Regions from separate parts of the Homo sapiens genome. Here region 1 is linked to region 2. Evidence: fine-mapped expression QTL. A gene starts in region 2. The other region holds a variant in brackets. All regions are shown on one strand. Distances are from middle to middle.

Region 1 (2,914 bases), 93 kb before region 2:
GGGTTATATAAAAATAAAAACTGCTAATATCCAAGTGTTTACTGTGTGCCATATAGTGTTCTAAGCACTTCACATGGCCTAGCTCATTTATTCCTCATATAAGCTTATCAGTTAAGTGCTATTATTATTCCCATTTTCGAGTGAGGAAACTGAGACTCAGAGAAATCTTATAATTGCCCAGGGTCACACAACTGAGATTCCAGTTGCAGAGGCCATACTCTTAACCATTGTACCACATAGAAAGTTGCATTTCCCTAAACTGCTGTTTTATTATAGTGCTGGATTAGTGGCTGGCACATAGTAATTGCACATGGTAAATACCTGTTACATGAAAGAATTTGACAGTGGTAAGTTAACATAGGTCTTCATTAAGTGGGAAAATTTGCCCTGGCAATGGGATATGTTGACATTGGAAGCAGTTGTGTTTCATCCTCATGTATCTCTTACCTGGAGCAGTGCCTGTCTTGGAATAAGTGTCATAGTGAACATTTTGGAGTGAATGAATCAATCACAGGCAGATTGCGGACCCTGTCGTAGCAGATGGATGAGCTCAGAGGACACTACAGGAACCAGGGCCAAGGCAGGGCCATGGTCGGGGCCATGGTCATGGCCCAGGGAGAATTCACAGTTTGGCTAGCAGCATCCTGGTTGTACAGCCACAAGGCAGCCCAGTTTGTAGTAGCAGAATAGGGTCCAGTGTCAGCAGGCGAGGCTGTCCCAGTTACAGGCAGTCAGGTCAGAAGAGGTCCCAGCAGGAGTGCAGGGCTGGCAGGATTCAAGGTCAGGTAATCCAAAGTCACAAGGTTACAAGCAGTAAAAGTTCAGGCTGGCTGGCGAGAGAGCCAAGGAGCTCCTGGAGGGAGCTGTCGCCCGGGCTGGGCTCCCCTCCTGAATGAGGCCTTTCTTCTCAGGCTGCTCAGAGTGCCTGAGAGGAATACACCAGACCTCAGGGCAGGCTGGGGAGGGTGAACCGGAGACTTATCCTGGTACGGAGCCAGAAGGAGCCTTCATGAATGTCTTGTCAAACTCTTCATTTGGTGAGTGAGGAAATCAAAGTTTAAATGAGAGGTTATTGAGCAAGTGGTAGAGCCAACGCTGGAATCAGGCCCTGTAGAGTTTTTCCCACTTCCTCGTCTTTTCTATCAAAAATGAAGAGGTGATGGGAATTGTGGTTCTCGGAAGGAGGAAGCACTGAGGTGCAAGCCTTAGAGAGGAATGATGGAGAGCACTTGGATATGGGGCAAAAGGAGGAATT[C/G]CAGGAGGACTGCACAGGCCTGGAGACTGGCGGTACAGGTGATGGGAATTTGAAGGAAACTGCTTGGATGATGACTGAGATACTGACTCTAGAATATAAATTCCATGATGACAAAATCTTTTTCATTTTAATTGAAGCATAACATACAGAAAAGTGCATAGAAGGCAAGGACTTAACATTTTTTTATTGTGCTAAAAAAACACATAGCATAAAATTCATCATCTTACCCATTTGTAATTGTACAATTCAGTTGTATTAAGTTCCTTCGTGGTGTTGTGCAACCCTCACCACCATCTGTCTCCAGGACTCTATTCATCTTACGTAACTGAACTCTGTGCCCATTCAACTGCCTTTTCTTCTCCCCACAGCCCCTGGCAACCACCATTCTATTTTCTGTCTTTATGAATTTGGCTACTCTTAAAACTGCATGTAAGTGGAATTATATAGTATTTGTCTTTTTGGGACTGGTTTATTCCACTTAGCATAATGTCCTCAAGGTTCATCTGTGTTGTAGCATGTGTCAGAATTTCCTCCCTCTCAAGGATGAATAGTATTCCACTGTATTTTGTTCATCGCTTCATCCATTGATGAACCCTTGGGGTGAGGACTTTTACATGGCTTGCTCACCAGTGACTAGAACAGATCCTGGCTTTAAAAGTAACTCAACAGGTAATAGTTGAATGAATTTTAGTTATGTTGAACGGGAGGTGATAGTGGGACACCCAAGTGGGCTGTCCAACAGGTATTCCTGGATGTCTCAGGACTAAAGGTTGGAATCGCCTTCATGGGTAGGGGGTAAAGACAGTGGTGTGAAGGTGCTCCCAGGGACGGGGTTGAACAATAGGAGCAGGGGCCTGGGGCTAGCACAGGTGGGACCAGAGTCATGACAGATGCAGGAAAGGTGGTCTCAGGACAGTGGTACAGGCCAGAACACGAGATCAGGGGAAATGTACCCAGTACAGCCAGAGCCATTAAGTGCTAGGCAGTAGGCAAGGCACTAGGACTAGCAACACGTGTGAGGCAGACGTAAAGATTCATCAGCACAAATCATTCTAAGGCCTCGTGGAAGTGGAAGTCTTGAACTTGAGTGTGGACTTGAAATACAGTTGGACTCTGCACTATGAAGAGGAGAGAGAAGGACACCACAAGTGAGAAAGCGTTGAGAAAAGGAGCTTGGTGGAAAGAATGGGAGGGTACAGGGCACAAAAGGAGACCAGAATGATGAGGCAGTGGACTTGCGGGGGACGTGGGAGGCAGGGTCGGCACTTCTTTTATTTCTTTCCCTTTAAAGTTGATCAAGAGTTGGCAGTTGGGAAGCTTAAGTAATCTACATCTAAACACTACATCTAATGTAACTCCTACTTAAAATTACTGGACACCAAAAAATCCCCAGGCAAGCTTATTGCCCTGTATGTATGGTAGAATATTGTAACATGGACAGTGGTAGTTGTAAAGACCTGGTTGCATGTGACAGATGCACTTGCTCAAATATGAGTGTGGCGATTTCTCAGTCACATGCTGAAAAATCAAGAGCCTCTAGTCAATTTAACCAGTATTCACTGGGCTGCAGCTGAGAGCCCTGCTTAACACTAGATGCTGGGATAGAAAGACAAAAAGGTGAGATTAAGAAGTAAGAGTTAAGCCTGGGCTGTACCTAGA
Region 2 (2,914 bases):
GGCGTGAGCCACTGCGCCTGGCCTAGCATGCATTTTTAAAAGTATTGATTCCATTCAATGAAATACAAAATAAATTTAGTGGGATAGGCCTTAAGCTTTAGCTTATGAGCTGCAGGGGAAAACAAGATTAACATTATCTGCCTTCCTTTGTTAGGATACTAATTTCTCACTAGGTTTGGCTACCATTGTTTTTTAGGTTGTTTCACATCTCTCAAATATGACTCAAAGTAATGAAAAGAAGGAAAACAATGTCAAAAAGCCATTAGGCAATGGAATCAGATACTATCTATATTGGTTGGGAACAGGAAGAAGACTCGATGGCCCACCCACCCCCCAAAAAAGCAGCCATTTACAAACTAATAGGAGCTCAGGTAACACGGAGACTGTTCACAGAAGGCACAAAAAGCATGGCGCGCCCTTACCACCTCTCTAACCCCAGGCACCGAGAGCCTGCTCTCACTCAACATGCCCTCCCTAGCCCCAGAGTCCGCGCTCACTCCATTCAAAGCAAACAGTTGAGCTGTCTTGCCCACAGTGAACTCTGCACACAGGCCACTTACGCACAGCACGCTCCCAGCAACACCTGGCCAGGCCCCTGCTCGCCCAGCCCAGCACATGGGGCACAGCAGACGCACTGCAACCCTTACCGCGGGTACTGTCCAAGCCCTAATGAACACCCCACTCACCAAGGCACCAAGGGAACACAGGGCAAACTCTCACCACGGACACAGCACGGGCCCTAGCAACACTCCCACGCACCTGTGCACTCCAGAACAAGCCCTCACCTAGGGCGCCCAGTCCGCGCTCCCCTGGCCGACTGGCTCAATCCCGAAAACACGATTCACGCTTTTTTTAGGGACGCAGCCAGATCCTGCGTAAATGCTGGCCGCGCACACGACGCCACCAAACAAGCTTCACCTCGGGCTCTGCGTGGTCCCCGCATTCCCCGCCACATACCCCCGGGATCTGAGCACTGCACCCCTCAGAGAACCCTGTCCCCAAACAGGCACGGCCTGCTGTGAGCCCCGCCCCGCGACTCTTGCCCGACTGAGGAGAGCTCTAGTCTCGCCGCGGACGCGCGAACCCGCCCCGGGGTCCTACCGGAGAAGGAGTACAGCAGCAACACCATGGCCGCCAGAAGCAACCCAGGAAAGCGCCAGGAAGGAAAGGGACACTCGCGGCGGCCGGGAGGCTCCATGCGCGGCGCGGAAGACGCTGTTATTTCTCCGGAGGAAAGCAGAGAAACCGAGAGCCAGCCGAGCAGGGAAGTCCCTTCTGGGTCCAGATATGGGACGCAACAATCCCCAACTCACAAAGCATCCAGTGCTGCAGGACAGGTGGGCGTGGCCCGAGCCGCGCCCGGGGCGGAAGTGCGTCGAGTCACCAGGGCGGCTGGGGCCAATCGGCGGGCCGCGGGGCGGAGCCTCGGCGTTCATGGGCAGCCCTTGGCCTTCGAGAGGTCAGGGGGAGGCCCTGGCGGAACCTAACAGAACAGGTTCCCCGAGGCCGCCTTTTTTCTTGCTAAGCCCTTGGCCTACCATCCCGGAAGCCTGAGGCGTCCTGCGGGAAAGGACTGGCTCGCCGTCATATTTGTGACCCAGGCAGGGTGGAGAGAAAACTAAGCTGCTTTGGTAATAGTTTCCGGGAATTCGGGAGTCAAGAATAAAGCACTTCGACCTAAAAATAGAGATCCAGAGTCTAGACAGGGGGTCACCGTGGGCTAGCACCCCTCAGGGTTAGTTTTATCCTGGGGCACTGCAGGCTGTCAGGACTGCCTGGGCCCTTACTTGGTATTTGGCATTAGTCAGGCATTATTGGGAACAATATTTGAGTTTTTCTTGCTTGAATGCCTGCTACTGGATCGTCTCGGGGCCGTCTTGTTTTCACAATCTCAAAGGTTTGGCTTCTGCACTCCCAGCCCCTAAGGTAATTTGCCCTTTGCTCCCCTCCCTGGAGGGGACCCTTCCGAATCTAATTTATTAAGCAACACCAGGCAATTAGAATATTGAGACTCTATGGGGCCCTTGCCCTTGAGCAACTAAATTTTTTATTGAAGACGAAATATACATGCATGAACAATGTAAGGACAAGGGTGTCCTAAGTGCCAAATTCCTGGAAGCAATAAATGCAGAAGGATTCGGATGGGTAGAAATTGTTAGGTGAAGAGTGGATAAGGGGGAGAACTTTTCTGGTGAAACAATCTGAGGAACAATACTGGAAAATTAAGAATGAGCAGGATTGATTTGTAGGATTGTGAGTAAACCGGAATGACCGGTAAAAGGAAAAGGACATGACTGACATTAAAAGAGCAAACAAAGAGTTGACATTTCTTCCCCTCAGATTGGCAAAGAATTAAAACGTCAGCCAATGTGAGTGAACGTGTTGCAGGGGGACCAGCACTCTGTAACATAACTTTTCAGTATGTTAAAAGTCTTAAAGTGGACATGACTTGTGTTAGGCTCTCAGTTCCCAGAGAAATCATCAGAGCTGTGATCAAAGCTCTGATGTGATCAAAACTCTGATGTGATTAATTTTTGAAAAAATGTAAACCCTAAGTGTCTAGCAAAAGTAATAAAGAATTTCTGGCAGTTACCTTTGTGTGATGGAATTCTATGCAGCAAATATTGCAAAAGAATACCAAATATGAGAAACTATGATATCATTGTAAGTGGAAAAAGCAGAGTCCAAACTGGCATGTGCCTTTTGGCAGTCCTTTTATTAAAACAAAAGTACCATATTGATATGTATAAAAAGAAACTAGGAATACAGCAAAATTAACAATGGTTGATAAGATTACAGATATTTCACTTTCCTTATGCTTTTCAGTTTTCTATGTTGACCTTATGTTACATTTAGAATAAAGTAAAGAAAATGTATTTAAAAAATCAAACCTATATATCAAGGGCTGTTTTGT

Alleles and levels. Positions count from the first base shown, and alleles are read on the strand shown. Sizes are in standard deviations (SD) of each study's normalised expression.
In carriers of allele G in region 1, the expression in B cells of the gene that starts at base 1,357 in region 2 tends to be lower than with C alone (large effect, 0.91 SD a copy in Schmiedel 2018).

Evidence for each region. PIP is the estimated chance that this variant, and not a neighbour inherited with it, causes the effect.
Region 1: its variant is the best candidate, but not a certain one, in a credible set for the expression of CD46 in B cells (Schmiedel 2018, PIP 0.51).

What each region holds. Positions count from the first base shown.
Region 1 is chr1:207,843,216-207,846,129 of GRCh38, reverse strand. No RefSeq gene overlaps it. Among named protein-coding and RNA genes, the nearest start is that of MIR29B2CHG, 22 kb to the right of the region's middle. The variant C/G (reference allele first, on the strand shown) is at 1,256.
Region 2 is chr1:207,750,497-207,753,410 of GRCh38, reverse strand. It overlaps CD46 (CD46 molecule), which reads right to left and starts at 1,357. Exons shown (of 13, transcript NM_172351.3): 1 at 1,102-1,357. The coding sequence starts at 1,198. RefSeq lists silencers at 470-827, 1,407-1,516 and an enhancer at 1,097-1,306.